4 separate regions of the Homo sapiens genome follow, and regions 1, 2 and 4 are each linked to region 3. The links come from fine-mapping of genetic effects on plasma protein levels. A gene starts in region 3. Each other region holds a variant in brackets. All regions are shown on one strand. Distances are from middle to middle. Region 1 has its middle 13 kb from the start of C1QL2. Region 2 holds the start of LOC124906072 (a long non-coding RNA gene). Region 3 holds the start of C1QL2 (complement C1q like 2). Region 4 overlaps MARCO (macrophage receptor with collagenous structure).

The links. PIP is the posterior inclusion probability: the model's chance that the variant is causal. Protein levels are from antibody-based Olink assays in UK Biobank. Linkage for the fine-mapping came from a reference panel and not from the study's own genotypes, which makes the PIPs less certain.
Region 1: its variant is fine-mapped to the plasma level of the C1QL2 protein (UK Biobank, PIP above 0.99).
Region 2: its variant is fine-mapped to the plasma level of the C1QL2 protein (UK Biobank, PIP above 0.99).
Region 4: its variant is fine-mapped to the plasma level of the C1QL2 protein (UK Biobank, PIP above 0.99).

The regions. Positions count from the first base shown.
Region 1 is chr2:119,141,540-119,149,642 of GRCh38, reverse strand. No RefSeq gene overlaps it. Among named protein-coding and RNA genes, the nearest start is that of C1QL2, 13 kb to the left of the region's middle. The variant T/C (reference allele first, on the strand shown) is at 4,596.
Region 2 is chr2:118,990,246-118,998,348 of GRCh38, reverse strand. It overlaps MARCO (macrophage receptor with collagenous structure), which reads right to left. Exons shown (of 17, transcript NM_006770.4): 13 at 7,716-7,760; 14 at 6,474-6,572; 15 at 5,873-5,917; 16 at 5,049-5,225; 17 at 3,689-3,962. The coding sequence ends at 3,829. It overlaps LOC124906072 (a long non-coding RNA gene), which reads left to right and starts at 5,031. Exons shown (of 3, transcript XR_007087213.1): 1 at 5,031-5,278; 2 at 7,183-7,261; 3 at 7,863-8,103. RefSeq lists an enhancer at 4,753-5,952. The variant T/C (reference allele first, on the strand shown) is at 3,707.
Region 3 is chr2:119,154,934-119,163,036 of GRCh38, reverse strand. C1QL2 (complement C1q like 2) reads left to right here and starts at 4,286. Exons shown (of 2, transcript NM_182528.4): 1 at 4,286-5,451; 2 at 6,056-6,794. The coding sequence starts at 4,768. The coding sequence ends at 6,235. RefSeq lists an enhancer at 5,108-5,918.
Region 4 is chr2:118,981,274-118,989,376 of GRCh38, reverse strand. MARCO (macrophage receptor with collagenous structure) reads right to left here. Exons shown (of 17, transcript NM_006770.4): 9 at 7,870-7,968; 10 at 7,721-7,756; 11 at 7,123-7,221; 12 at 6,967-7,029. Among named protein-coding and RNA genes, the nearest start is that of MARCO, 43 kb to the right of the region's middle. RefSeq lists an enhancer at 1-390. The variant G/A (reference allele first, on the strand shown) is at 4,369.

The sequences.
Region 1 (8,103 bases), 13 kb after region 3:
AAAATTTGAGTTGAGTCCTTTATCTGTGTTATCTTGCTTAATCTCAACAATGGAGTAAAGTGAGATGCAGCAAGTTAAATATCTCAACAGTTCTCTCGGTCACGCTGTGAGAGGATCAAAACTGAGGCACAGGGAGGGCTAGTGATTTGCTGAAGGTCACACAGCAAAGGAGAGCCTGAAGATTGAAGCCCAGGTCTATCTGACGTCAAAGGTCCTGCTTTTAGTAATCCAATTCTCTGTCTTCCCTACCAGCCTGCTGGTTATCTGAGGCTTGTCATAGAACCTCTCTGAGCCATGGTTTCCTCTTCTTCTTTTTGTAGAGATGAAATCTTGCTATGTTGCCTAAGCTGGCCTTGAACTCCTAGCCTTGAGCAATCCTCCCACCTTGGTCTCCTAAGTTGTTGGGATTACAGGCACGAACAACTGCACCTGGTACAGGGTTTCCTTTTCTGTAAAATGCTGCCTATTCTACAAGACTAATGTGAAGAGTGAATGAGCTAATGGATGTCAGCGATGTCACCGGGAAGTGTTCCATAAAAGTTAGTTGTCATCAGCACTTAAACATTTATTTTGAAAGAGTCACTTTGCCAACTACACCACCTGGCTACTTGTCCAAGCTACTGATGGTTGGAGGAACTCAACTGTGGTCTTTGAACTTGGTGGATTCAAATCCACCTTTACCATGAACTAGCTCCGCAATAATTTAACAGATTATTTAACTTGCTGAACCTCTCTTTTCCCCATCTATAAAATGGGACCAGTCCTCCTACCACATGGGTAATTGGGAGAATTAATGAGATGTCGTAACAGTATGGGATACAGAATAAGTGCTTGAGACCTGGGGTTAGTATGTGGTGGTGGTATTGAGATAATGATTAGGGATCTCTTCATTTTCTCCTGAGCCGATACATTTCAGGAATCATCAAACTGAGACTTCTTGGAGTGAGAAAGGGCAGGATTTTAGTGTCAGTAGCTGGCATTTATGAGCATGCCTGTGTGTTAGGAGACACCAAGGGCATTTTTCAAACATGTCTACAGTCCTTTCAGTAACCCTGTGAGGTGAAGATGAGTGATAATTGTACCCATTTCACAGATGAGGAAGCGAGAGGCCGTTTTCAATGGTGGTTATATATGTCACAGCCAGAATTCAACCCAGTGCCCTTTCCACTGTTCATGCCTTGGTCTCTCACCTACTTTAGCACTGGCCCTCGCAGGTCCCAGTACGTGCTGGGAATGCTTGTGCAACTTAAGACTGATGACTGTGCAGATCCTGTTGGGGCTCCCTTGTTAAATCCCAGGCTAATAAGCCCCTGCGTAATTGGGCCTGGAGCTGTGACTAAGTCTCAGGGCTCTGCCACATGAATATGCAAACTCCCATTGACGGCCCAACTCCATCGCAGCCTGATTTCAAATTGGCATACACAGCCCAGTGGTTCAGGGCCTCTTGCTATGCATAGTAAGAATGCCTGCTAATCCCACTAAAGCTCTGAGGTCAGGGTTGGGTAGGGGGTGTGCTCAGCAGAGCCCATTCAGGAGGGTACATTGAGAGCATGCAGTCCAAGCTGCGGCCCTCTTTCAAGACCTGCCCTGCCTCCACGGGATCAATATGGAGCTTACAAGCCTTGGAAGGCTGGTTTCTGTTTTCTTTCCCAGCTCCATGAGGCATACGTGGGAAACCCAGATGCTGCTCAAGGGCATGGAGTCCAGTGGGAGCTGTCTGGTGGCCTGCAGATTGTGAAAGCCAGCTTTGCCACATGTTTCACATAAAACCTGATTACTGGGTGTCCACTGTGTGCCCAGCACCGTGGTGGGGGGAATGGTTGTCACTCTCTTTCAGTCTGGTTGGTAACAAGAATAGTAATTGTCAATGATAACAACAATAGTACTCACTCCTGTTTGTCAGGTACCTACTGAGAGGTGCCTGTGACTTGCATGCCCTCATTTAAAACTCCCTGAAGTCCTGCAAAATGGGTGTTATTCTTCCCATCTCACAGGCGAGGGCCCCGAGACTTGAGAAGTTAACTCAGCTGTGCTCCAGCTCCACAGCTAAGAGGTGGTGGAGGCTGAGTTGCAGCCCAGGTTTGTGTGGCCATAAAGCCCTTCCTTTTTGCACGACAGAGGTGCTGCAGTGTGTCTTGATCCACTCTACGGATACTTGGGGAAGGGCTGACCCGATGGCTGATCTGGGCACAGGGAACCTCTATGTGGAAATGAGAGGTCCTGAGAAGGGCTGGGGTGGTCAGGAGGGCTTCCAGGAGGTGGTGGCCCATCAGTTGGGGTTTGTCATGTAAGTGTGGTCATTAAGCTCCTTAGGGAGCTGGCAATGAGGCTGAGCAGAAAAAACTCACACACTTTGGAAATCCCTTGGTTCCATATTCATTCTCCAAACAATTATTAAGTGCCTACATCTACACTGAACGCAGTGCCGGGCCCTGGGGTACAAAATGTCCTGAGATAAGGCCCAGTCCCACATGAACTCTGTAAAAGACAGGAGCCAGACCAGGGCCCAGGGCAGGGGATATCCCACCCAGAACAGGGAGCCGACATCACTCCAGAGAGCCACTGAGCCCAGGGTAAAGCCAGGAGAGGAGAAACAAAGCGGTGCAGATGCCTCCAGCTCTTTGGAGGGGACCAGGAGGAGGCCATTCTGGCAGGGAGGGAAACACAATCACAGTCCTGGAGGTGAGCTTGCCTCGGGGAAGGGTTTTCTGGAGCCTTTCTCTCTACACGTGTGTTGGGCTGTGTGCATTGGTGTGCATATGGCATGCACATACATGGAGGGAGATGTGACTTATGTGTGTGACAGGAGGGATGTATTGTGGGAGGGATGTTTGTGTGTGGGATGGAGTGTGTGTGTGTGTGTGTGGTGTGCTGTACCTATGGGGACACAACAGTGTCAATTGCAATGGTTGTGTATCTGGCTCAGAACACTCTTGGGGGTGTTTGAGCCCTTCTTGCCTCTCAGTAGAAAGATAGAAGAGCTTTATGCCATTGATTGGTTCCGCTTTTCCCAACTCCCTGCCTCCAACACACATAATAAACTTCATTGCTGACTCTCTTTGAAGTGTGTTTGGAGTTTGTATTTGGGGTGGGGTCACATGGGGATAGGAGGTGTCCAGGGCTGAGTGTTGAATGATGGGGGAGGGAGGGACTGGGGAGAAGAAACATCTCAGGGCAGGAGCTGGAAGTTAGAAGGGTCCCTGAGTTGCCTAAAAGACCCCAAATAATGGTGTTCTGGAATCACAGATGCAGATAACTGCACATGCAGCAGCAACAACTTAACATTGTAATACCACTCGATTCTTTCTGAAGGGCATTGGCAGCCATTCATTCCCTCATTTGTAGTGACATGCCAGCCCCCACACTCACCAGCATGTGGAATTACAGATAGCTCCTGTGCTCCTTCCCAGTGGATTTCTGCAAGGACTGTGGTCACTGGACATACAATTATAACATCCCCATCTCCCCTCAGTAGAGGAGACTGAGGCTAAGACAAATGAAGTGACCAGTCCAGGGTCTCATGGCTGGTTAACAACTCTACTGAGAATAGCCTCCCAGTCAGTCTTCTCTGCTTCTCAGGGCTTCTGATAGTTCAAAGTGAGGGGTCTGAACATGGTAAACATGATGGGAGACAGAGCAAGCATATAGATTCCCACCTCTCTGTCAGGCAGTTAGAGCAGATCACTTTCCAGGGCTGTATCCCAGCCCTGGAAATGCTATCTCCCATAGCATCCTGGATACATTAGCTAGAGCATCTACTCATCCATCCATCTATCCATCTATTCATCTATCTATCCATCCATCTATCTATCCATCCATCCATCCATCCATCCATACATACATACATACATACATACATACACCTACTCATCCATCATCCATGTAGTCAGTGCACAGCTGTATGCTAACCCTATGTAGGTGCTGGGAATGAGATGCTCTCTATCCAAAAAATCTCCCAGTCCGGCGGCAGAGCTTCTAGAAGCCACTGCCCATCCCTTCTTCGCTTTCTCCAAACAGCCACTTTCTAAGAGAGGCAGGCATAGGGCTCTCGCCTGGCTCCCCGTGAGTGAGCTAGCCCAGCAGCTAGCATGACAGCCTCTGACAGGCCCAGGTGACTGGCATCAGAGAACAAGAAGCTCCCTAGTGGTGTGGCAGAAATCCCGAGTCAAGCTCAAGAGCTTTCCTACAAATACATGAGGGGCCTGGCTTCTCTCTCGAGGTGCTTCCTGCAACTCCTGCAGGATGGCAGGTCTGGCACTGCGCATGCCTCATGTCCTCATGCCTTGAGTTGGTGGCACCATGTGCCATGTGTGGTGTTTGCCTGAGCCCTTGCTTGGCCCCTGGCCACAAGTTGCACCCTTTGCTTGGCTGGCCACCCTGTGGGCTGTACCTTGCCTATGTACCCCCATTTTTCGAGGGACACTTCACAGCTTCTGCACTATAGTCATCACCCATGTTGGGAGGTCTGGATGTAGAAGGAGGAACTTGCATCACAGCAGAGGGCCTGTGTCTTACTCTGTTTCTGCTGCTCAGTAACTCATGATGGGGGCTTCTTGCGGAAATGAACAAGCAAGGCCACTGCCCAGCCTGGTGCA[T/C]GTGAGGAGGCTGGCAGAGAGGAGTAGGTGCTTTCCACGCCGAGCTGCAGGACCGGAGGGCCAGCCGTGGGAGGTTGCCTGTGGGATTTGTGTTTGTGAAGCTGGCTAACTAGTCATTACTGCCAGCTACCTTCTTTCATATCCCTGGACTAATGGGGCTGCCAAGTTAGGGACCCCATGGTCCAAACCCTCAAACAGCAAGTAATTGTTTCCACTGTGTGAGAAGCCAGTGGTTAATGGGGGTTTGCCAGCAGCTGCAGGGGACCAGGGGCTCAGTTAGGGTTTTCCTGATTAACTCTCCCGTGTTCCCATTCCGGGAGGGATGGGGCAAAGGAAGTCCGATTGCCATCAAATCATAGTCATCACTCTTAGCTGCTTGCTTAGTAAACCTCCATGTCTCCCGGCACTTACACAATCACCTCCAAGTCCCAAACCTGGTGGACTGGCCTTTCATGATCTGGCCTTGTTTCTTCCCTGCCCACTGTCTCCCTCCATCCACTTCCGCAGGTAAATGGAGATTCTTTTCTTCCCACAAGGAGGTTCCTTCTAGTCTCTATGCAGAGCCTGGACTAGGGTAAGATGCAGAATTTAAGAGAGTGCAAAAAAACTCTCCAATTAAGAGAAATAATTTTAATGCAATATTTAAAACATCAAGATTATTGTAACCCATGACAGAACAAAATATCAATATTTAATATATTTTTAAAATTTCAGTAGCTTTGGGGGTACAAGTGGATTTTGGTTGCACAGATGAATTGTATAGGAGTGGAGTCTGAGATTTGCATGCACCCATCACCCTAGTAGTATACATTGTACCCCATATGTAGATTTTTTATCCTCTCTCCATCCCTCGCTCCCCCTTCTGAGTCTCCAATGTCAGTTATACGTATGTCTGTATGCCTTTGCGCACCCATAGCTTAGCTCCCACTTATAGGTGAGAACAGGAGGCATTTAGTTTTCCATTCCTGGGTTACTTCAGGGAATATCAATGTTTAAATAACAATGGCATCAGTCAGGATCCTTTAGAGAGGATTCTTTTTCTTTTTCTGATTTTTTTAAACCACTTTATTGAGTTGTGATTCTTCTCATTTTATCACAGACGATCACCAGGTTTTGAGAGAAAAAGGAAGAAAGAGGGACTAGGAAGCACTAAGAATGTGTTCAAGGAATGGAATAATTGACTGTATTAATCTTGATAAGAGTAACTCTCCTGTTACTAAACATCCATTGTGTATTGATCATTTACTCAGTGCCGGGCACCATGTTACAGAGCTTACGCTCATGATCTCATTTTCTCCTGCAGTGGTAGGTGTGATTATGCTTGTCTCATTGATTTGGAATCTGAAGAACAGAAAGGTTGAGTAGTTTGCCCAGAGACACACAGCTCTGCCAGGTGGAGCTGGAATGGAACCTAGGTCTGACTGTAAGGCCCATGCTCCTCCAAGATATTTTATGGCTGCCCCTGAGGGACACTTCTGTTCTTACCTTTCTCCCTATCCCAATAACGATGCAGACTAGAACAATAAGAAACACACACTGGGTTCTTGCTATGTGGCAGGAACTTTTCCAGGTGCTTTATATGTGTTATGTATCTCATTTAATCCTCCCAACCACCACAAAATGATAGAAATTATCCCCATTTTGTATATGAGAAAACTGAGACACGAAAAGGTTAAGTAACTCGGTCAAGGTCCCAGCAATAGTAAGTGGGAGAACGAAGACACCCGGGTTTCAGTTGAGCTTGTGTCCTCTGCGCTGAGCGTGGGATGTTCCAGGCAGTGAGCTGGACCAGGCCTATCCATTGCCCTCGTGCCTGGGGTGGGTGAGACATTACCAATCCCCCCGCCCTGGCCCAGGCCCCGGGGCCTCACACAGTTCCCAGGTGGGAACCCAAGCCAGCGCCTCTCCACTCACTCTTGGACTGGCACTTCAAACAGTGGCCCTTTCCGCCGTGCCCACTGTCAACGTCGTGGAAACCTGCCAGGCGGACAATGAAGGCATTCAGGGGCTGTTATTTATTTATTTCTCAATAAAGAAACTTCATGAATAGATGGATATTTATTCACCTAATTCGCTTTTGCAAATGCAGTGTCCTTCAAAGAATGATTTGTTTGCTGAGTGGGGCTGAGGTGGGAGGTTAAAAATAGCTCCCGGCAGTACCGTATTTCTCAGTAAATCAGTGTTGATAATTTAATAATAAAATTAGTCTTACATCAGGTACCAGATAACGCTCCTTTGACATGCAAATCAAATTAACTTCCTACCTAATGTGGGCCATTTGTGAGGCTGCAAAATCACTAGTCTCCGTTTTTGGGGCATACATTTAGAGCCTTTCTTAGGTGGGTCAATAAAAGTGCCTCCAAAATGCTTATCTCACTAATGTGATCATTTGTAATATTCACTAAGTTCAAAATGTAGGCAACTGGAAGTTCTCTCACTTCAAAGCTGTCACATATAGCAGGTTGGAGAAGACACCAAACACACACCTGTCCAGTTTAGGGAGATGGCTGTAAATCGCTTTGAGTTTGGGGGCAGAAAGGCTGTCTCCTCCAGTATGTCTTTTATTTCTTCTTAATAAAACTTTCATGGCCATCTACAGTGTGCCAGGCCCTGTAGTAAGTTCTGGGGAAGCAGAGATGATTTAGATACTGCGTTTAAGGAGCTCATGCATGGTCTGGTGGAGGGACAGTCGCATCAAGGGGCATCATGGTGTGAAGACAAAGGGACATGCACATACAAGATCTAGGGAAGCATAGCAGAAGAAAGGGCCAACATCATTGTGAAGGAGAGAACACACAATCCAGGAAGGCTTGTTCCCAAAAGTGAAATCTATACTGGGTTTTGTAGGATAAATAGGAGTCCTCTGGGTAATTGAGTAGCAGTTAGGGGCACAGGACAGGGCATTTCAGGCAAAAGAAATGGTATATACAAAGGTGTGGAGGCATAAGACTTAGTACCATGCAGAGAAGTTACATTTTTTTTTTTGTAGCCAAAGACTAGCAAGTGGGAGACTGGAAAGTCCAGTGGGGGCCATATGACCTTGTGTGACCTGTGAGAGAGCTGAGATGTTCATCTGAAGGGATGGGGAACCACCGAAGGGCTGGAAGCAGGGGAGAGGCGAGGCTGGATGTCCTTGCTGAAAGATCTTCAGGACATGGTATGGAGCATCCGTGGAGGAGGGCAGGATGGTTCCCTTCCCCGCTAAGGAATGAGCACCACGTTTCCTACAGGGCAAGTGGGATTCTGTGTGAGTGCTGCAGGACACAGGGGCCAAGAAACAAACAGGAACCAAAACACACTGAGGGGAGGAACTGGGGAGGAGGAGCTGCCCCAGAAAGAGCTGACAGGGAAGTGGGAGCCTCCTACCTGGGCCCACTGGGTGGGAACTTCAGGCCTCACTCACCCATAGGTATTCAACAAGCCCCAGTATATGTTTGACATATGCAGGTTACGAGCCTTTCCCACAGGGACCATGTGATTTTAACCAGCCCTCTGAGATTGGCAGGGT
Region 2 (8,103 bases), 160 kb after region 3:
AGGAAATAGAGACACAAAAAGCCCTTCAAAAAATCAATGAATCCAGGAGCTGGTTTTTTGAAAAGATTAACAAAATTGATAGACTGCTAGTAAGACTAGTAAAGAAGAAAAGAGAGAAGAATCAAATAGATGCAATAAAAAGTGATAAAGGGGATATCACCACCGATCCCACAGAAATACAAACTACCATTAGAGAATACTATAAACACCTCTATACAAATAAACTAGAAAATCTAGAAGAAATGGATAAATTCCTGGACACATACACCCTCCCAAGACTAAACCAGGAAGAAGTTGAATCTCTGAATAGTCCAATAACAGGCTCTGAATTTGAGGCAATAATTAATAGCTTACCAACCAAAAAAAGTCCAGGACCAGATGGATTCACAGCTGAATTCTACCAGAGGTACAAGGAGGAGCTGGTACCATTCCTTCTGAAACTATTCCAATCAATAGAAAAAGAGGGAATCCTCCCTAACTCATTTTATGAGGCCATCGTCATCCTGATAACAAAGCCTGGCAGAGACACAACAAAAAAAGAGAATTTTAGACCAATATCCCTGATGAACATTGATGCAAAAATCCTCAGTAAAATACTGGCAAACCGAATCCAGCAGCACATCAAAAAGCTTATCCACCATGATGAAGTGGGCTTCATCCCTGGGATGCAAGGCTGGTTCAACATATGCAAATCAATTAACGTAATCCAGCATATAAACAGAACCAATGACAAAAACCACACGATTATCTCAATATCTCAATAGATGCAGAAAAGGCCTTCGACAAAATTCAAGAACCCCTCATGGTAAAAACTCTCGATAAATTAGGTATCAATGGGATGTATCTCAAAATAATAAGAGCTATCTATGACAAACCCACAGCCAATATCATACTGAATGGGCAAAAACTGGAAGCATTCCCTTTGAAAACTGGCACAAGACAGGGTTGCCCTCTCTCACCACTCCTATTCAACATAGTGTTGGAAATTCTGGCCAGGTCAATCAGGCAGGTGAAGGAAATAAAGGGTATTCAAATAGGAAAAGAGGAAGTCAAATTGTCCCTGTTTGCAGACGACATGATTGTATATCTAGAAAACCCCATTGTCTCAGCCCAAAATCTCCTTAAGCTGATAAGCAACTTCAGCAAAGTCTCAGGATAAAAAATCAATGTACAAAAATCACAAGCATTCTTATACACCAATAACAAACAAACAGAGAGCCAAATCATGAGTGAACTCCCATTCAGAATTGCTTCAAAGAGAATAAAATACCTAGGAATCCAACTTACAAGGGATGTGAAGGACCTCTTCAAGGAGAACTACAAACCACTGCTCAAGGAAATAAAAGAGGATACAAACAAATGGAAGAACATTCCATGCTCATGGTTAGGAAGAATCAATATCATGAAAATAGCCATACTGCCCAAGGTAATTTATAGATTCAATGCCATCCCCATCAAGCTACCAATGACTTTCTTCACAGAATTGGGAAAAACTACTTTAAAGTTCATGTGGAACCAAAAAAGAGCCCGCATTGTCAAGTCAATCCTAAGCCAAAAGAACAAAGTTGGAGGCATCACGCTACCTGACTTCAAACTATACTGCAAGGCTACAGTAACCAAAACAGCATGGTACTGGTACCAAAACAGAGATATAGACCAATGGAACAGAACAGAGCCCTCAGAAATAATGCTGCGTATCTACAACTATCTGATCTTTGACAAACCTGAGAAAAACAAGCAATGGGGAAAGGATTCTCTATTAATAAATTTTGCTGGGAAAACTGGCTAGCCATATGTAGAAAGCTGAAACTGGATCCCTTCTTTATACCTTATACAAAAATCAATTCAAGATGGATTAAAGACTTAAACGTTAGACCTAAAACCATAAAAACCCTAGAAGAAAACCTAGGCAATACCATTCAGGACATAGGCATGGGCAAGGACTTCATGTCTAAAACACCAAAAGCAACGGCAACAAAAGCCAAAATTGACAAATGGCATCTAATTAAACTAAAGAGCTTCTGCACAGCAAAAGAAACTACCATCATAGTGAACTGGCAAGCTACAGAATGGGAGAAAATTTCTGCAATCTAACCATCTGACAAAGGGCTAGTATCCAGAATCTACAATGAACTCAAATTTACAAGAAAAAAACAAACAACCCCATCAAAAAGTAGGTAAAGGATATGAACAGACACTTCTCAAAAGAAGACATTTATGCAGCCAAAAGACACATGAAAAAATGCTCATCATCACTGGCCATCAGAGAAATGCAAATCAAAACCACAGTGAGATACTATCTCACACCAGTTAGAATGGCGATCATTAAAAAGTCAGGAAACAACAGGTGCTGGAGAGGATGTGGAGAATTAGGAACACTTTTACACTGTTGGTGGGACTGTAAACTAGTTCAACCATTGTGGAAGTCAGTGTGGTGATTCCTCAGGGATCTAGAACTAGAAATACCATTTGACCCAGCCATCCCATTACTGGGTATATACCCAAAGGATTATAAATCATGCTGCTATAAAGACACATGCACACATATGTTTATTGTGGCATTATTCACAACAGCAAAGACTTGGAACCAACCCAAATGTGCAACAACAATAGACTGGATTAAGAAAATGTGGCACATATACACCATGGAATACTACACATCCATAAAAAAGGATGAGTTCATGTCCTTTGTAGGGACATGGATGAAGCTGGAAACCATCATTCTCAGCAAACTATTGCAAGGACAAAAAACCAAACACCACATGTCCTCACTCATATGTGGGAATTGAACAATGAGAACACATGGACACAGGAAGGGGAACATCACACACCAGGGGCTGTTGTGGGGTGGGGGGAGGGGGGAGGGATAGCATTAGGAGATATACCTAATGCTAAATGATGAGTTAATGGGTGCAGCACACCAACATGGCACATGTATACATATGTAACAAACCTGCACGTTGTGCACATGTACCCTAAAACTTAAAAAAAAAAACAAGCTGATACCTAGTGTTCTTTGTTCTTTCAGTAGATGGTTAGTGAGTTGTTGCCACAAGAAGGGACACAGGAGAGGCTCAGGAAAACGAAGCCTTTTATACCTACAGGTCCTAGAGTGACAGTCACTGCATGCCAAGAAGGGGTCACATCCTCCCCACCCTTTAAGGTCCAGTTCAAATTGTGCTTTCTTCAGAAAACTTTTTTGATTACTGTCACTCCAGATAAATATTTCCATTCTGTAAATCCCACCCATGTATGGAAGGAAAGATCAATGAGACTCTAAGACTGATTTCAGGCTTACTATGTGGTTTGCAACATGGAGAGTGGGCTTAGCCCAGCAGGCAGGGCGCTGAGAGAGAGCAAGGACCGGTTGGGCAGGTGGAGTCAGGGTGGAGCACACAGCATAGGGCATGAAGAGAGTTCATGTGTGTGCTGGAATGTTACCAGGTCACTGTCAGGGGAGGACAAAAAGGGGGATAGAGAGCTCACCATGAGAGATGTTATGTCTGAATGACTGAAGAGATGGTCAAGACTAAGGTTGACCATAGGTGACCTTCACCTTCTGCCTCACCACCTCCAACCTCTCCTTCCCCTGGCTACGGACATGAGAGAATTCAATGAAATGTTGTGGTGCATGGAGTGGGCACATCAATGGGGATGGGAGGTATGAACACAGTGACACTCAGCCACAGCCAATGATGTTGAGCTT[T/C]ATTAATGGCCCCTCTCCAGAGGCTGCTCAGTTGTCCCCAGGGAACTCCTCAGAGATCCTCTGCCTTCCCACATATGAGCCCGAGGACACCTCGGGAGCAGAGAAGTGAAAGGGTTTCCGGGTCAGACGCTGCACTCCACGCCTGCGTCCTCCTCGTGGCTGCAGTCATGATGGCCCCAGCTATTCTTGGTGCAGCTCCACAGGGTACTCTCCGTGCCCCGACACTGAACATTATCCAGCCAGATCTGCCCAGTGCCTTGATAGAGAGAAAGCAAGAGACAGAGGAAGAAGGGTAGGATTAGAGTCAAAGCAAAGAAGCCACGTGTGCGCCTGGGAGCTTCCATCTGAGGTGGACTGCCGACTTCTCACTCATTCTGGCCCATTCCGGCCCAATGTGCTGATGGCTGGCTTAGCCTGTTTTTGTTGTTGTTGTTGTTGTTGTTGTTGTTTTTATAATGACTTTGCCTCCGTTCTATTCTCTACCCTTTGACAAAAGTCTCATGCAAATCTTTAATGCTTAAACCCCACACTATTTGAAATATCTTCCTAGGCGGGTGTCCTTTAGTTTCCTCCCTGCAAATTCACTCCTGCTGCGTCCACCTGCCTCACATGCCTCTGTAATCAAGCCATCGCCCTGCTCTAAAGTGGGCATTTGCTTTGGTTTGGGTAAGGACAGGGAGCACTTGGGGCTGGGAGCAAGGGAAACTGGCCTCATGTCCTGCTGGGCCAGATCCTATAGCCAGAGAAAAGGGTTCTGCCTGGGGACTTAACTTCTTTGCTCAAGGCTTGAACTTTTGGCTGAAAGATATAGGCTGAGTCTCCAGCATCCGAAGACATTTTCCACACATTTTAGTAAGTCCCTGCTCTGATTTGCTTTCTCTTCCCTTCCCATCTTCTCTTTAAAGATGATCACAGCCAAGACTGCTTGCTGGTCAATCCAGGCTGCTGGTTCACAGACAGCTGGAGTGAACATCTGCGTTTGCCTGCCCTGAATCTTCTCTCTGTTCTTCCAGTTGCATCAACTCAGCTGTCCTTTGGAGAGCCATCTGCGGCAAACACCCTCAGCCATGTGGCATTCTGACTCCAGGGCTGGATGGACCTTGACCGAAGCCAGGCCAGCCTTCACTGTCAGCGCTGGAGAAGACAGGCCATCTTTCTGCTGGGGTTGCCAAGCTGGAAGGATGCATACCTGGAGCCCTGCACTGCAGAGCTTTTTGGTTGCTTGGACCAATATTTTTCTTTTAAAGAAAACCACACTGAGTCACTTGCCAACACCCCACCAGCGAGAGAAAGCCACATCCACACCTCTGGGGAAGAGGCCCCCGGCTGATGACTCACTTACCAGCTCCCACTTTGTACAGGGCCCTTCCTTTGGAGTAACCCAGCATGCGGCAGAAGACAATGGCATCAGAATTTTGCCACTCGTCATCGCAAATTGTCCCCCAGGTACCACTGTAGTAAACTTCAGCCCGGCCTCGGTTACTACTGCCGACAATCCTGACGGACACTGAGTTTTCACCTGGGTGAAGAAACACACATGGGAGAGGCAAGGAAGGCCCCTTGGGGCTTTGGGTAAGTGCGGGCTCTTTCTTTTCATTTTGGAGTTCTACAGTTAAGGAAAAGAAATGCCCCTGCTTGACTGTCACCAGAGCCTGGAAGATCCCACTTTACAGTGCCAACCCAACCTGGCACGCAGCCTCCATGCACCTGGGGCCTGCAGGCACAAGGCCACAGGGGCAGGTGCCCCTGTGGCTGGTTTGCAAATCGCATACACCACGTCTTGTCATGTGTTGTGGAGAGAAAAAAAGGAAAGCTGAGAAAAGAGAAGGAAGGAAGGAAAGAATGGAGAGAGAGAGGGAAAGGAAGGAGGGATGGAGAGGAAAGAAAGAAGGGAAAGGGGAGGAAGGGAGGGAGGGAGAGAGAAAAGGAAAGGAAGAAGGAGAAAGGGGGAAGGAAGGGAGAGAAGGAAGGAAGGGAGAGAGTGGCTGGGGAGAGAAACTGCTGCTCTGTGCCGTGGGCAGGCTCATTCAAGGGACTAGACCCTCAACTCCTCCCCAAAATGAGAAATTTATTTGAGAACCAAGGTCTCTTCCCCCAACACACACAATTTTCAGGTGCAGAATTGACTTTAAAGCACACATTAAAGATAATATAAATAGTGATTACCTCTTTCACCTTTTTCTCCCTTTACTCCTTGCTCCCCAGAAGATCCTGTCATGAGGAGAAAACCCACACGGTTTGAAAGAAACCCAGGCAGGACGCCTTTGCCTGCATTTGCATGAGTGGGGAGCGGGTGGAGGGTTGGGAGTGGTCAGATGCTCCGTGGGTCTCGCCTGTGGCCTGGCATTATGGGGATGGGATGTCCTGCGGGTGTCAATGACTGAGCAGGAAGAAACGGGCCTGAGCTACAGCAAGAGGGGTTGAAGTTAGATTGGTGAGGGATGCTTGGTCTGGTCAGAGATATGGAGTGGGATGGGCTCATCTCCTTCATGGAAACTGCCTAGGAGTGTTGGGTCGTGGGGCATGGCTCAAGTGCATGTTCACGCCCCTGCCTTGGATGCTAGAGCTGCGCCTAACCCGCTGCTGTGTGCTCCATGCCTAGGGCAAGCCCCAGCACAAGACTTGTCAATCAAGGAAATAAACCTCTACCCTCCTGGGTTCTGAAAATCCCCAGAACTCTTAAAACAGCGCCTTTCCTATTTTAAGGTACAGAACTGGCTGTAAAGCACAGTCCTAAGAACAAAGGAATCAGATGCAGAGGCCTTACCTTTCACTCCCTGGTCTCCCTTCTGGCCAGCTTGTCCAGGGGCTCCCTTGGGACCTGCCAGCCCTGGGCTCCCCTGTTCTCCCTTCACACCTGCAGGGCCTGGAAGGAGAGACACTGCCCTGATCAGGTGCCCTGCTTTGCCTTCCCAAGAGAGACCCAAGGGCATTACTGTTTAATAAATGAGTTATCCTTAACTGCCAGACCTCCCCCATGGCTGGGCTATCTGAATGTTCAGCCTGTCTTTGGTCCATCTGGGGGCTGCACTGATCTCTCAACTCTTAGGTAAATGCTGTCGAGAACAGGCAGGCTAAAATAGCTGGTGGTATTCCACAGATTCTTGGTCCTTCTGGAATTACATAGTTATGTGGAAGTTCTAGCCATGCTGGGAGAATTTGCTAGAATGTTTCTAAGCCTCGATGTCTCCTTTAGTGAATTGAAATAGTAACAGAGGCCGAGTACAGTGGCTTACTCCTGTAATCCCAAGCTTTGGGAGACGAAGGTGGGAGGATCACTTGATCCCGGGAGGCCAAGGCTACAGTGAGCTATCCTGTCCTGGCACCACTGCATTCGGGCCTGGGTGACACAGAGAATTTGTCTCTAAAAAAATTGAAAAAAAAAAAAACCATAAAACATAATAGAATATCTAGCTTATGAGGAAGAAAACTTGCTCAAGAAATGTGTCTGAAAAATCTCACTTTTGCACTCACAGGGGCAGGGCTCTTGAGAGGCCTAGAAACACCGTCCAGCTGGTGCCAGCTCAGTACCCAACTGAAGCACAGGCTCTGGAGGTGAGGATAAGAATAAGAAAGCCCAGTGACAGGCAGCAGGAGGCAGAGAGGAGAAGCTTGGGGGCCAAGAAGAGACAAGTGGGCCACAGCTGAGGTGGGGAAGCAGCAGCCGTGGATGGAGCAGAAGGGGCACAGCTCCATGGCGGCTGTAGAGCCTGGAGCCTCTGCCTGCACCCCCAGCTCTCCTGACATTTTTCCCCTTTGCCATCCTCAGCCCCTTTGCCATCCTCAGCCCCTGCCCCATACGCTACACCCCTCAGGATGTTGAGTTCCTGTGGTTCCCAGGTTTTGCAGCGGAGAAATCTGAGGCTTGAGTGACAGAGCCCTGGAGTCTTAACCTCCACTTTGGGAGAAGGTCACAGCTGTGCATTCAATGTCAACAAGACCTGCCCTCTGAGAAGGCAGGCCTTCCCCGTCATCACTCCGAGGGATGAAGATGCAGCCTGCCCTTTACCTGGAACTCCTGATTCTCCTTTTCTTCCTTGCTGTCCTTGAAGTCCTAAGATCAAAACAAAAAAGGGGGGGGGGAGGAGATAATAAAACTTAGGTATTAGACATTTTTAATCTTAGACAACCTCTACCTTTTGTCTGATTAATGCAGATGGAAAGATACATTGGTTCTCCACGATTGTTTAAAGCCTCTTCAGCAGATCATGAAAAGAGACAGTCTGCAGATGAATGAGAACAGGTGTGTTGGGGGTGAAACGGCAAAGTACTGGATGAAAGCCTGGATTAGACAGACCCCAGATGCACCACTGGCCTTCCCTGCCCCCCGGTAACCTGACCTGGCATCTAAATCCAATCCCATTCCCTGCTGTTGCATTTATATTGGAAGAGAATTG
Region 3 (8,103 bases):
ACACAGGAGACAATTCACCTCTTTCAACATGGGCTCCAAGGCCTTGGGTGATCTCCCTCCTGTCTATCTCCCTGACACATCTCCTGCTGTCCTTCCCTTTGGGGATGCAGGCAGAAGATTGGCCAATGTATTCCACATGATGTCTCTAAAGAGCTTACACTCTAATTGGGACACAGGTCTGATTTAGAGACAGCATGTCAATAAACACCCATGCTGCAGCTGTTCAGGTACAAACTCATGTGCTACGGGTAGAAAGAAATGGGGGAGCTGAGGGTGTCTTGTAGAACAGCTAGAGTAGAAGGAACCAAGACTGTTGTGTACCACTGTGTACTCAGCACGTGGCATGATGGCTGGCATATGACAGGGGTCAATAAACACATATTGAGCAAATGAATGACATACACAAAAGATGAAGATGAATGAATGATACGATTCCTGCCCTACTGGAGCCCATAGCCAGGTGGGGGAGGCTAACTAATAAAGAAATGCATGATGGTAAGACATAGGATGGCAGGGTACATTCAACGTACTCTAAAGCGTACATGGGTAGGAACTATCAACTCAGCTTAGAGAAGGGTCACGGAAGACTTCAGACAAGGAAGTGACACTTAGCTGAGACTGAAAGGATAATTAGAGAGGAGTCCAGATGAGATGCAGGAGACAGGCCATGGTGCAGGTAGATGAAGCATGGGGCCCACTGCTGGTGGAGGCCACTAAAGAACCGGACATGACAGTGTGGAACCAAGCATCAAACTATGTGTCACAGAGCACAGGGCTCTATGAAAGGATAAGATAGAGAGCACTGGTTGGCACATAGTAGGTTGTCAGTGTATGTTGGCAGAAGGAATGCCTGCTGGATTACTAAAGGCAATTTAGAACAGATTTGAGTGGGTCTCGAAATGTAAAAACCACAGTCTAAATGGAAGGCAATATGTTAATATAGGTCATAATTAGTATTGAAGAGAAGATAGTCACCAATGATATGGATCGCTCAGGAGGAGCAGAAGCCAGGTGGATAAACAGGTATGTCAGCTGGGTGCAGTAGCTCACGCCTGTAATCTCAGCAATTTGGGAGGCTGAGGCAGGTGGATTGCTTGAGGCCAGGAGTTCGAGACCAGCCTGGCCAACATGCCAAAACCCCACCTCTACTAAAAATACAAAAATTAACCGGGCATGGTGGCGGGCACCTGTAATCCCAGCTACTTAGGAAGCTGAGGCAGGAGAATTGCTTGAACCTGGGAGGGAGAGGTTGCAGTAACCCAAGATTGTACCATTGCACTGCAGCCTGGGCGACAGAGTGAGACTCTGTCTCAAAAAAAAAAAAAAAAAAAAGAAAAAAAAATAGGTATGTTCAACACTCCAGCAGGCCATGCCTTCTGGCCCTGCCATGATGGGTGGGAGGAAGGAGAAGCAAGGGGAAAGACACCTCTTGACTTATTTGGCTGCTATGTGGAGGCTGCCTGGGCTCTGCCTGCCCTGGAGCCTGCTGCCCCTGCCTCCTGGTGGAGGGCTGGTCTTGAGAGGCGCTCCCAGGAATGCTGATCCCCAGGGAAGGTAGCTTTGCTTGTGGTCTGCCAAGGTGAAAGCCTGGGTCTCAAACATCTGACCCTCCTTGCTTCATCTTTGCCCAGATACTGCAAGGACAAAATCACTGGGACTTGGCAGTCTCCAGCAGTCTGAAAGGCTGGGGAATTCAAACGGAGTGAGTGTCTGCCTGGAAAATGTTTGTCCAGGTGGAACTGGTGACTGGGAACAAACACTCTGGGTAGTTTTGAAAGACAAAAAGACAGAGCAGGGCAGGCTTGGGGAATGTGGGAGGCATGGGACATCCCCCTTCTGCGCTCTGGAGAAGGACAAAGGATGTGAATTATCTTTGAGCTTCTCTTTTTTTAAAACCCTAACCCTCCCCATGCCACCCTGCATATTGCCTTCATGTCGCATCCTAGTGGTCATAACCATGGCAGGGGAGGTTGAAAGCATCAATAGCTAATAAAAATAGCTAAGCTTCTACTGAGCTAGCTATTGTTCTAAAGCCTTTACATTAATTGGCTCGTTCAGTCTTCTCAATAACTTAGAGGTAGGTTCTTTTTCCATTCCCATTCTACACATGGAGATCCGAGCTCAGAGAGATGAAGCAACTTGCTCAAGGTCACACAGACAGGAAGTCTCAGACCCAGGATTGGAAGTAGGCCATGTGGCTCCTGAAATCACGTGCTCTTGGGATGACTCTGAGGCAGAGAGTGGAGAAAGACTCCCAAGTCTGAGGAAACCAGTGAAGACTGTGGCCAAGAAGTAGCTGTTGAAGCTGTGTTCACTGACAGGTTCAGATAGCCCCTGATCTGGGTGCCGGGAGGATCCTGGCTCTGTCATGTGGGTAAAATGCACTTGGCAAACACCCTACACTTGCAAAACCTTTTTTTTTTCCTCATTGGTGCGGTGGGAAAATGATCACTAATCCACAGTAACATGAGGAATGAATGAAGGAGCACGTGCAAAGTGCCTGATGCATACGTAGTAGGTGCCAATAAATGTGCTCCTTCTCTCCTTGGTAAAGTTGGCTTCCGGCTAGGCTCAGTCATCCTTTCCACAAATATATGTGGAGAGAACAGGCTAGAGCAACGAGGTTGGGAGTGGGGAAATGACCCAGGGTGATCAGAGGACAAAAATAGATTTTAATTAACCCGTAAGAACCTAGTGCAGGACAAATGAGAGTTAGCTTCAAAGCAATAGCCTTAGGTGGGTGCACTGTTGTTCCAGAGATGCTGATGCTACACCAAACACTGACACCAGCCCTTAGATTCTCCCCCCAGGACAGGCCTGGTGTGATTCCCATGTTGGGGGTGCTAGGGCAGGAGGCGGCCTTTTAAGGAAACTGAGTCTCAGGGACAGGAACCACCTGGCAAAATCACACAGCTACTCAGGGCAAGAGCAGAAGCTGGGGCTTTGATTTCTCCGCTGGAAGTCTCTCCCACACCGGCGGGCCTCTCATCCTTCCTTAGCCTCACATGCTACATTGGAGATAGACTATTCTGCTCTCATCTGAGGCCATGGTTTATTCAAGACTGGCTCAGAATGGCTTTGGACTATTTGGACTATTTTCTAAAATAACTAAACCCATCTCAGGAGGAGGAAGCTGGGGATGTCCAAGGGAATGTGCCCATGCATCTGCCTGGCAGTGGCCGGGCTTGGAGTAGAAGCTGAGTGCACCATGATCACTGCCAAGTGCCGGCATCAAGCATTTGGTTTCTACACCAGCTTCACGCAGAGGACAAGGGCCAGCCATTTTCTGGTGGAAGAAAAGGTCTGAGGCGAATATTCCTTTTTTTTTTTTTTTTTTTTGAGATGGACTTTTGCTTTTGTTGCCCAGGCTGGAGTGCAATGGCACGATCCCGCCTCACCGCAACCTCTGCCTCTCTGGTTCAAGCGACTCTCCTGCCTCAGCCTTCCGCGTAGCTGGGATTACGGGCATGCACCACCATGCCCAGTTAATTTTGTGTTTTTAGTACAGACGGGGTTTCATCATGTTGGTCAGGCTGGTCTCAAACTCCCAACCTCAGGTGATCTGCCCGCTTCGGCCTCCCAAAGTGTTGGGATCACAGGCGTGAGCCACTGCGCCCGGCCGCAAATATTCTTGTATTGGGAGCCTTGGGCTTTTTAGAGTCACCTCAGAGGTTAGTGGGGTGCTCTACGGGAGCCTGTTTAAGAGTCTGGAGTCCTTAGTCTAGGTTTGCGAAAGATCTTCCAGAAGCGAGATCTATTCAATTCTGAAGAAATAACTCAGGAGGTCTTTCAGAAACTCCTTCCCGCTGGACCTCACGGGACTCTCCTGGACTCGGTGGGTTGAGGTTTGATCCTCTTTGCAGGCCAGGGGATGGATTAGGTGACCCCAGAGGAGCCCTGCTGACACCTGGATTCCAGCTGCTTTCGTGGCCATGTGGGGGTGGCTGTGCGTGCCCCGCCACTGCGTGCGTGGGTGTCTGTGTGTGTTATCGGTGGGGGGCGCGTGAGTGTGGCCGCGGGTGGGTGTGTCCGATGTGCCCCGGCTTGGGACCGCGCCCGCTGCGCCCACTTGTGGCTCCTGGGAGCCGCCAGGGGGAACCGCGCCTTCACCGCCTCTGCCGAGGACGCCGCCAGATAGGAGGCTGATGACATGAGGGCTCCGTCTCCCGAGTGATGGCAGCGCGCGCTGCTTCGCCGCCTCCGCCGCTCAGCCCCGGACTCCTTACGTCAGGGTAGCGGGGTCCCCCCTCCGCGCGGGAGCCAGCGAACAGCGAGAGAGCACAGCAGAGCGCGCCGCGGAGCCGGGGCGCCCTCACTGCGCTAGGAGCCCCACTAAACCCAGCGGAGCGGAGCCTGGCGGGAGGCAGCGCCGCGGAGCCAGCGCCGGACGCCGCAAGCAGACTCCCCGGCCAGCGCAAGCACTCCCTGGCCGGCGCCGGACCCTCGGGGCGCCGGATTCGTCTTGTGTGCCCCACGTCATGCGCGCGGGCGTCCGCGGCTCTCCCGACCAGCCCCAGCGCGGTGGGCCCAGGCTCAGAGGTCCCGGCGCCTCTCGCTGAAGTAGTTGGGTAGCCGGGGCTGGGGGTCGCCACGTCGGGGGCGCGGCCAGGACCCGCGGAGCCGGTCCCCGAGCGCGGGGAGCGGGGCCGCCCGCGCCGCCCCACCATTACCTCCCCGGGCGGCAAGGAGGAGCTGGTGGCGGTCGCCTCCCGGCTGTGGCAGCGGCGGCGGCGTGCCTGCCTGGCGGCCGTCGGCGTACTCTTGGCCATGGCGCTCGGGCTGCTCATCGCCGTGCCGCTGCTGCTGCAGGCGGCGCCCCGAGGCGCCGCGCACTATGAGATGATGGGCACCTGCCGCATGATCTGCGACCCTTACACTGCCGCGCCCGGCGGGGAGCCCCCGGGTGCAAAGGCGCAGCCACCCGGACCCAGCACCGCCGCCCTGGAAGTCATGCAGGACCTCAGCGCCAACCCTCCTCCTCCTTTCATCCAGGGACCCAAGGGCGACCCGGGGCGACCGGGCAAGCCAGGGCCGCGGGGGCCCCCTGGAGAGCCGGGCCCGCCTGGACCCAGGGGCCCTCCGGGAGAGAAGGGCGACTCGGGGCGGCCCGGGCTGCCAGGGCTGCAACTGACGGCGGGCACGGCCAGCGGCGTCGGGGTGGTGGGCGGCGGGGCCGGGGTAGGTGGCGATTCCGAGGGTGAAGTGACCAGTGCGCTGAGCGCCACCTTCAGCGGCCCCAAGATCGCCTTCTATGTGGGTCTCAAGAGCCCCCACGAAGGCTATGAGGTGCTGAAGTTCGATGACGTGGTCACCAACCTCGGCAATCACTATGACCCCACCACGGGCAAGTTCAGCTGCCAGGTACGCGGCATCTACTTCTTCACCTACCACATCCTCATGCGCGGCGGCGACGGCACCAGCATGTGGGCGGACCTCTGCAAGAACGGGCAGGTCAGTGACCCCTACACTCACCGGCCCCCGTAAACCCTCGCCCGCGCCCTGAACCTCCCAGGGAACCAGCCTCCTTTCTCTCCACCCGCGGGCTACCCTGCGAGCCCCGGGAATGAACGCGCCTCGGTGCCACAGTATCTCCGCTTCCCGATGCGCCGAGGCCGCGCTCACCGGGACGTAGAGCCAAATGTTGGGCCTTGAGAGCCCAGAGACCCCCATACCTAAACTACACTCCTTGGCCACTTGCGTCCCTGCCTGCCTCTCCGTGGGCTTCTCGGAAACCTCAGTTCTTTAGTTCTCTCCAGGTCGCCCCCTTGCCCTGCAGCCTCCTTTCCTCTTGGCCCTGGCCCCTGGCTCCCACCCTTCCACTCTGGGTCAGTGTTCATGAAGCTTCCCCTCTCCCTATTTCCCAGACTCGTCGGCGCGAGGAGGAGGGGGGACCTGGAAGGAGTTGACTAAGTTGGAGAGAGAACATGGAGCTGGGGTGGGAGTGTGGACCCTGAAGCAGCAGGCGGGAGGCCCGTGAGTGGCGCGCCTGGTGTGGGCTGAGCAAAGGCGCGGGAAGAGGTGCCCCGGCTCACCTGCTCCCACCGCTTGTCCCCAGGTCCGGGCCAGCGCCATTGCACAGGACGCCGACCAGAACTACGACTACGCCAGTAACAGCGTGGTGCTGCACTTGGATTCAGGGGACGAAGTGTATGTGAAGCTGGATGGCGGGAAGGCTCACGGAGGCAATAATAACAAGTACAGCACGTTCTCGGGCTTTCTTCTGTACCCGGATTAGGGGCGCGGGGGGTGCGAGGCGGGGTGGCTGCAGGCCGCCCGGTCTCCGCCCGGGCGCGGCTCCTTGGCAAAGGCCACTCTCGATTCATAACACTTCCTGACATCTCCTTTGGAAAAGACAAATCCCTGCGTCCTCCCTGCCCCGCTCCTGGCCTCAGTGCGTCTGCGACCCACCACGCTCAGGGCTGTGCTCCTGGTCTCCATCCCCATCCCGGCAAGGGAGGAAGGGACGCCCGAGCCCTTGAGGCGGCGGCACAGACTTTGCAAACCTGATTAGACTGGACAGGCAGGGCCGGGAGCCTGCCCTCCTCAGACAGCCTCCTCCCAGTGCCTAGAAGCGGAGGGCTCCGGGCCCTGGCCAGGGAGGTAGGCCAGAGGGAGCGCGGGCTTCCTGGGGCGTCCTTCTTTGTGACCCGAAATACTTGTGCAGATTTCCCTGTCCATCAGCCAAAACCCCACCCACAGCAGAATTCCAGCAAACAGAAAATTCACCTCTCCACACCGCATTCCCTCCTGACTCAGACTCACCGCGATGCATTAAATTATGTTTTTAGACTATGCGTTCTGTTGTCTGTATGTCGACACATCCTGGACCAGGGCTCCAGATGTCCGCCTTGGCATAAAGACCTTACCTGGGCCCAGGATAGGCCCATCTATGACCTGCTCCCCAGCCGCTGCTATGTCCCTGCCACCAGAAGTTGCCGAAAAGACATGGGGTAAATGGGAGCTGCATCCCACCCTTCCCAGAAGCTCTCCCCAGGCTGCAGCCCTGAGCTGGAGAGGCCGGAGGTGGGGTTGGGAGGAGGGGAGGAGGCGGGGAAAGGCATCAGGGAGAGTTAGAGGAAAGCAGGAGAGGAATGATTGGGTCTCCAGTCTTGGGCAACTTGGGCAACTTAGTCCTCCCGGAGTTGTGGGTGGAGGTCAGAGGGGAGGGGCTTCTGGGGAAGGAAGGGGAAGAGAAGGCATCTATGGGAAATGGGAGGCGTGAGTGACACTTGCCGGGGAGGGATCTGTAGGATGTTTGGCTCCTAAAAGGAAGTGCAGAAGTCCCTAGCAGACACACACCCGCTCGAGCGGATGGTTCACTAAGCACAGGCCTGTTTACTCACAGCCGCCAGGGCCACCGCTCTCCGGAGAGCTGGTAAACTGAGGCAATTCCGCGGATCATCCAGCTTGCTGAACTTCCTCAGGGCTGTGTGTTGAGGTGGACACCATTCCTTGGGGAGGGACGCCTCTTTCCTGCGGGCTTCCCTTCCCTTATGCATGCGATTTGGGGTGCCTGCTCTGAACCTGAGTGTGTGTGTTTGGTGTCCCATCAGCATTCTACACACACACAAGTTAGGAAAACACCCCGCATGGTTTTGATTTTTTTCTTTTTACTTTTTTTTTGTTGTCAGATCACTGAGTTACAACAAAGTTATGTACAAAATAACCAGTCAGCTCCCAGCAACCTGTTAGTGCTTACTGAGGTCACTTTTACGGGTTGTGTGAAAAGAAATGTGTGAGTATACACAAAAAGGCAACCCCAGGGTGTGTGTATCTGTGTAAAGCTGGAGATTGTGTGTGTGTGTGTGTATCTCCTATGTGGATGTGATGTTGTGATTGTCCTCACGTAATCCACATTACACATGTACACACACTTATATTCATAAGTCCATGTCAGTGTGGTGTGTGACAATGTTCATGCTGCATTTCTGGCCCCAAATTGCTTTGTGCTCGACTTTAGTTCCTGGAGAATGCTGAAAGCTGTGATTCCCATTTAAAAGACAACTATACCCCCTGCCTTGAGTCCTGTTGCTGTCGCTATTCCTTTTTGCTCTTATTTTGTTTGAATAATGTTTTATTGTCATTCTTTTCAATATGAGCAAT
Region 4 (8,103 bases), 170 kb after region 3:
TCTGTTCCTCGTGTTAGGGAAAGGGACAGAACTGAGGTTGGGATAGGTTTTTGTAAGAGCTGGAGGTGCCTTAGAGGTCAGCCCCTGGCAGACAGGCCCCAGCTTACACAGGGCCATTTGTGCACACACCTGTCCCTCTGAATAGAATGCCTCACTGCTTTGGTTCACCTGGAGAACTCACATTTAGCTTGTAAACTCTGCAAAGATGTCAGATGTCACCACCTGTGAAGCCTTCTCTCCCTCGCCCAAGACAAGATATCCTTTCTCCCAAGGCAGTAAAGCAAAGTGGTTCCAAAGTCTGACAGCCCGGACTTGAGTCCACTTCTGTCTTATACTAACTTTGTGACCTTGAGCCAGGTGTCCCTGCTCTGAGCCTCAGTTTCCTTCTCTGAGTCTCCTTGTTTGCCTCCTGAGGCAGTTGTAAGGCTGAAATGAAATCGTGTGTATCAAGCGCTGAGCCCGGTGCCCAGCCAGTGCTGAATAAATGATGTAACAGGACCCACAGTGTCCTGTGTCCCCTCCAGGTGGGGAGCACCTCAGGCACTGAGGTTGAGTCCACACATGAGCACCAGGATTGCTGCACAGCTAGCACCCAGAAAATGTCTGCTATTGACCTGAAGGGCTTAGCTGAGATTGCCCAGGAGAAGCGACAGATGTTTCCCTTCTGCTTACCTGCATCTGAACAGCATACGCCAAGATGGGTTGGGCGAAAGATCACATTCTGTATGTCTATGATGGTGATGAAGTAGAAAACAGTCCACATCCAGGGAGGTCACTATGTCTTGGGGTCCCTGAACCCTACCTCTAGGGACACGCTCTTAAGGTAGAGATTTCTGCAACATGGCACCCTCTGGGATGCAGATAGAAGGGGCCAAGAGTCTGGATGTGGACTGTTTCCTGCTTCATCACCATCATAGACATATAGATTGTGGTCTTTCTCCCCACCAGTCTTGACATACGCTGTTCACATGCAGGTAAGTAGAAGGGGCCTCAAAACACTGTGACCACCCTTTATTGTGACCACCTAAAGAGATGCACCCCTCCAACTGTCCCCTAAAGCACCGAGCAGCAAACACCCTCTAAAGACAGGAATCATAGGGAAGCCCCTGTTCACCAGGTCCATAGCCCCAAGCCTGACTCTCCCTCTTCATTTCCCACACTCTCCCTTCCTAGCTCCTCACCTCCAGGGGACTCAGCATTTTCTGCTGCCTGCATCACGCCAGGCACTGTGCCAGGGGCTTTACATCCATGACCTTGTTTGATCTTTCAGCCACCCTCCAAGGCAGTGTGATTTCCCTCCTTTACAGAGGAGAAAGTACACACTCAGAGATGCTAGGTGAGTAATTCAAGGTCACATAAGAGTGAATGGGGGAAGTTGGGGCTGTCACCCAGGCCCAGCCTCCCAATGTTCCCTGAAGGCACCTTTGTTCCACTAGTACTAGGCTCACTCCTATCTGGAGTTTCACTTGGTCTACGCACTTGGTTCCCAAGACACCTCCAGCCTCCCTGAGGCCATTTCTTCCCCCTAAAAGAGGAGTAGTCAAACTAGAGAATACATCAGAATCATCTGGGTGCATCTTGTTAGTAAACAACTTGCTAGGTCCCACCGGAGTCACTGATTTAGTGGGACTGGAGTGGGAATCCAAGAATCCACAGTACTAACAAGTTCCCAGGTGATGCTAATGCTGCAAGTCTCAGGACCACATTTTGAGTAACACTGCCCTAAACAACTCTCACTCATTCTTGAGCGACCAGCTTACAGCCCACCTCCTACGAGCAGCCTTCCTTGTCTCTTTAGGAGCTCACAGCCCCTCTCGCATCTGAATCCTCCCAGACCCACAGTTCCTATAGCAGAGGTTGGACCTTGATGAAATGCCTTCTGATATGTATTTAATGGGTATTGGAAATTAGAATTGAGGTTTGTATCATTTCTCTCCAAGCCTCGCTGGACTCTAAGAGAACACTGGCTGAGTGGTTGTCCATGGACTAATCGATGGAGGAACTAGTAATTACTTCACTATAAATCAAGGCAGCATCCTGATAGGATCAGCTCCTGCAGAGTAGAGGGAGAAATGGCTAAAAAATAGGTTCTAGAGCTGCATGTTGTAAAACTACGCTGGAGAGCAAATAAATGCTGGATTTTTCTTCTTAACCATAAGCAAGCTGGCTTTCCCCAAGTATCACAAGCTTATCAAGCTGAAAGGGTTCCAAATATTTACTTGCAAAGTGTTTTTACAGAAATAATATTCTCCCAAGAAATGTGTGTTAAGTTAGAAAACATATGCCTTCCAGTTGTTTAGTGTTGAGCTGGTGTTCTGACTAAAGTCTTCAATTGTTCCTGCTCCCAGGGAAGCTGCCTATTTCAAACCCAGAGTGCTGTGAAACTGTCAGGGACCTGGTGTTCTTCTATACTGCTTGCACGCCACAGAAAAGGAAACAGGCTCAGCAACGTCAAGTAGCTGAGCCTGTGGTCACTCAGCTAGTCAGGGGTAAGTTCAAGCTGAGGCTCAGATCTCCTGATTCTGAGTGAAATGGAGAAATCTCCAATACATTAAGAAAACTTTCTTTCTTTCCCTTTCTTTTCTTTTCTCTCACACTCTTTCTTTTCTTTCTTTCTTCTTTCTTTCTCTTTCTTTCTCTTTCTTTCTTTCTTTTCTTTCTTTCTTTCTTTCTTTCTTTCTTTCTTTCTTTCTTTCTTTCTTTCCTTCCTTCCTTCCTTCCTTCTTTCTTTCTTTCTTTCTTTCTTTCTTTCTTTCTTTCTTTCTTTCTTTCTTTCTTTCTTTCTTTCTTCTTTCCTTCCCTCCCTCCCTCCCTCCCTTCCTTCCTTCCTCTCTCTCTCTTTCTTTCTTTCTTCTTTTTGACAGGGTCTCACTCTGTTGCTCAGGCTGGAGTGCAGTGGTGCAATCATAGCTCACTGCAGGCTCAAATTCTTTGGCTCAAGTGATCCTTCTCCTCCTCCTTCAGCCACCTGAGTAGCTGAGACTACAGGTACATGCCACTATGCCCAGCTAATTTTTTTATGTTTTGTAGAGAGGGGGACATTGCTGTCTTGCCCCGTCTGGGGAAACTTTCCTAAATACCATGCCAACTTGGAGGCTAGATGCAACCTGGCAAATTTAGGATTGAGCTAATAACTGACAAATCGACCTTGTGGTAAGAAGTGAGATGAAGGATAAGGGACTCAAAATTGGGGTATGTGTAGACTTCTGCAAAGCTCTCTCAGAAACTTAGAGGAAAATGAGGAAGAGTTTTATAAATGACAATTTAGTGATTTGACTTAGTAGAATTTAATAAATTATTGGACTATCTCAGAACTTAGATATAAGGAATGGAATTAACTAAGAAATTATATTCATGACATAGGGCTCAATTGCTATTATGGATGATCTTTTTGGCTTATCTTTAAAGTAAAACATCTTCAAATACAGATGAGAAAATGGATTTTGAGTTATTTGCACTTCGGTTTTGCCCCAAGAGGAAAATAAAAGGGCATGGAAAATTCACATTGCTATAGTTTAGACATAAAGGCCATTGAGATAAAGAATTTCCAATCAGATTGGTGTTTTGGAGTTTAAATGTTTTGGCTGCTTCTAATGTTATTTCATGAGGTGTAAATGGTAAAAAGAGAAATGTCATGATTACAAGCCGAAGTGGAGTCCTTCCTTATTTCTAAATAAATATTATTTCAAAATAGCTAAGACATGTAGAGCTAAAATTGGATTATTCTTCTGCAATCTTTGAAAGTGAAAATGTTAGAAATACTAAGTGATGGAGGCTGGACAGGGTCTGTTTCTAGTAGGTAAAAAAAGTGACCCTGAGAGAAGGTTCTGCAGGGTATGGTGCCTTGCTTAATAAACTGTGGAGGTTATCTTCCCACCAGAATGGGAAGAATTTCCTCTTTGTCTTCTTTAATATGAGCTGGCTCCTCTCTCAAGAGATGCAAACAAGAGGAAGCATTTCACCTGAATGGGGTAGAGTGTGGTCAGTGGCTGTGGAGGAGGTAGAAAGGCTTGGTGACCAAGCCAGGATTTACCCATTTATGGAGGAGTGGGAGGTGTGGCTGGGGTGGGGACAGGGTGAAGGTAACCGATTTCTCTCAAATCATACACTCTACGTTCTTCCATAAAACCGATTCTGGAAAAGCACAACTCTGGAATCAGACTTTGGGATTCACTTCTGAATTCAGTTCATGCTCCCTGTGACACTGTGAGCAAAGGGTTTACTCTCTCTGAGCCTTTGCTTCCTTGTTTGTAAAGTAGGAATGATAAGTTCAGTGTGATCATGGGAGTCAAGACCCAGGCACAGTGCCTGGCCCAGAGGCACTGATAATAATGAACAGACCGCTCATGTTTTTAAAATAATTAATGC[G/A]CAGTAATGAAACCTAGCTGTCACCTAGGTCAAGCCAACGCACTGTAATTTTTCTGTTTTCATCTAAAGTGGCTAGATATTCTCTTGAGAGATTAACGATTTTATTTACAAAATGGGAAATACATCAGTTTGGAAACCTGGCTTGATATATCAACACTGGCCAAGCACTGCAGTGGCTTTAGTTTGGGGAATACCGACATCCTGACATTGACAAGTATACACTGTGCTCCATGATGGGGAGATTGGGCTCCCACCCTCTGCCTGCCCCTGCTTCTCCCACTTCAGAAGTTGTCAAATCTAATCTCTCCGGAAGTTTATTAGCCTATGACTCCAGGATGATCTACATACCCAGCTAAATTAGCCAGATTATGGTCCTATTGGAATTCCCCTCTGAGATGTCCATGTGGACTGTCAGCTACTAAATCAAGGAAAACATTTGGACTCGGGTGGGCAACCTGCACAGTTTTAGATAAACGGGAATTATCACAAGCCCCAAATTGAAATGCACTTCCTCATGTTTACTTGGTCAGCCAGAATTAAGGGTAACCCCTAGAATTTGCTGGCTGGTACTCACCACTAGGCCTAATTATTGGAGAACTCCATAAGGGTATTCAGCAGATATAAAAGGTCTCGATGAGGATGAAATTAAAATGATCCCCAAGCTATGGGCCAAAAGTCTTTTGCTAAAATGGGTGTGGGGTCCTGGTTAAATAACTAAGAACCATGATAGGGCCTGAAAGCTTCATGTTTCTTCCCAGGAATGGAACAAGCTGCTACCTTCTGCTCTGATCCTTTCTGAACTGGGATGAAGGGAGGAGGTGTCACTCATCAGCACACCCTGATTGTGGGGCTGGGGAGGGAGAACTCATGATAGACTGTACTAATAAGATCCCAAGCTTTGTCTTGTACTGGCCTAGATTTGAACCTGGCTGCATCTCTTAATGGCTGTTTGACCGTAAAGTTGTGCTACAAAGAGTGCTTGTCCCACTGGGTGTCAAGAAGATGCTCATTAGCAGGAGCTGCTTTTGTTCTGCAAATCCTCCCAGGATGCAAAGGGCAGGGCAGGATTCCCTACCCTCAGACTGTGGAAGACACAAGCTTGGGGCTTGGGGAGTAAGCACAATGCTCCTGTGGGTAAAATCATGTTTTACCTCCAATACTCTTGGTTAGTTGAGAACCGTTAGTCTGGCAGTGGGGGTGGGGGCAGAGGGTGACTACTATTTACAACCGAGAGATGAAAGCAATCATCTCCATGAAATCACACAGAAGGCTCAGGGGCAAGAGAGCATCAGGTCTCATAGTCAGATGGACTCTGAGACTGGGGACCAGAGAAGATGGAATTATAAGATCAGAATGGACAGTGAACAAGTCAGGAACATCTGACGACTATACCCAGATGGAAACTTTCCTATGGTGAGACCCAGCTAGTGGCCTTCAGGTGGCATCCACATGGGATCAGGTAGCAGGGATCCTCCCAAACACACTGTCCATAAAAAACACAATTGCTCTGGGGCTCGACAGATTACAAGGACAGAGAGGGTGTAAAACTGCGCTTGCCATGGCTCCCGACAGCTTTCAAAGAAACACAAAAGCTCAAGCCCAGAGCCCAAGGTTTGCCAGGAGGTGGTGATGAATGAATCAATCAATTGATTAGAGCTGTGGAGGGCCAGGTCCCAGTGTAGGTCTCTAGCACAGCACGGGGGTGAGGGCATCCAGGTTGTCTGACACAAGCGTGACCTTCTCAGGCAGAGGACAGGGGTGGAGGCAGACTGTCTACAGATGTCCTTGGCAGACATGCAGCTTTACATCACAACCCTGCCTTCCCCATTGCCCCTCCTGCCCGCTCTTGGCTTTCCAATGTGCAACAGTTCTCCACAGAAATGCCCAATCAGAGTGTGCCCACATCATCTGGCAACAGTCTCTGTTCACTGCAATACCCTGCATGTCAGGGCAGAAAGGCAGGAATTGATCTTATGCATTGTGATAGTGGTCTGGACTTTCTAGACCAAGCAAGCACACTGTGACTGGACCAAAACGGCTTATAAAGTAGACTATATTGGTACAATGGTTTACGACCTAGACTAAATAGACATGATGGTATATAACCTAGACTAACCTAGACTCTGTTGGCATTATGGTATAAACTAGTCTTTGGCTAGTGTGGGTCAGTGCTCCCAGGCTGCCCCCCTAGGAAAATGTGGAAGAAGAGTTTTCTGGACCCTCCAGCCTGAATCTAGACTCTTGGACCCCCTCTTAGGGGCCCCAATGAAGGGTTAGCAGGAGACAGCAGAAACGTACAGCTGGGAGGCAGACCAGGGAGATGGTATGGGCAAGGTGCTTTGCTCTCCTCCGTGATGCTGGAGGTTTGGTCATGGCATTCAAGGACTTTCATGAGCTCTGAGAAGAGAAAGAACAGCCCTAGGCCCTTGGGCTTAAGGGGTCCTGGCAGGGGCAACTGCCCCCATAACCAGGAACCTCAGAGGCCAAGGCACAGAAGACCCTCTGCCTCCTCCGTGGGCCTAAGAAGAAGCAGTTTTTCTCTCCATCCATCCTGCCACCCAGCAAGCCCACCTACTCACCCACTGCACCCTCTGTTACCTGTGTCCCCTTTGCTTCCTTTCAGGCCTGTGGCTCCTGGACTCCCGGGGCTCCCTGGAAGTCCTGGACAACAGACACCACAGAGAGCATAAGGGCTGGACTAGGCAGGTTTTCACACATCACTCCCTGTGCCCACCATAGGACCCAGGACCTCACCTGCTCGCCCAGGGGAGCCAGCACTGCCAGGCTCACCCTTGGCACCTGGGTGTCCCACTGCACCAGGAGGGCCCGGAACACCCTGCAGTCCAGGTTGTCCTGAAAGGAAAGTAGTGACTGCCAGGCTGTGGTGGTTGGCAGAGGGCCCAGATACCCCAACCCCCAGTGCTTCTGTTTTCAGCAGTGAGACATGTACCTCTTAACACCTTACAGTCCTCTTGGCAGCTTTAACACCTCTCTTTAGAAGCCATGAGCTAGCCCTCTTAGTAGGAGGAAAATTATTCTCAGCAACTTACTAATCTTTTCCATCTGCAGGGCCTGGGACTTATGGACTTACTAGGAGCTCTGGGTGTGACTGTCCAACTCCACCCCCTGGGTGGCAAAGTGGGGTAAAGTCTAGAGAGAAACATCAGTGAGGCCTGCCCCCACCGCCCACTGGCTGCTCTGTTCCTCTTGGCCAGGGCCAGATGTCTAAAAAACCCCAGGTGTTCTGGGTGAATACTACAATGAAGCAAAAGATGGTGGTGTCTGGTCCCCAGCTTCACTCTGCCAGGGACAGTCGTAGCTGGGATGATGCCCAGATTCCTGTAGTTCTTACCTTGATCTCCTTTAGCTCCAGGAAAACCAGCCAAACCTAAGATGAAAAAGAACTTTTAGGAATTTTTTTTTCCTTTGGCTCAGCCAGCCAGAAAAAAAAAAAAAAGGAAATACCTAGAGGTCAGTGGATGTGACCACGTGCCCTCTTACCTGGTGGGCCTGGCCTCCCGAAGTCACCTTTACTCCCCTGGGCTCCAGGAGGCCCCATGACCCCTGCATCTCCTTTCATGCCCCTGTCCCCTTTGCTTCCTGAAAAACCAAAAAGTCTTGGTTAGTTGTGGGAGGAACTCCAATCAGGCCACCATGTCCTCCTCTGACACTTCCCATTCCACTGAAATCCCAAACCCTAAACTCCTTGAGCTCCTACTTGGTGCCCGCGAGTGG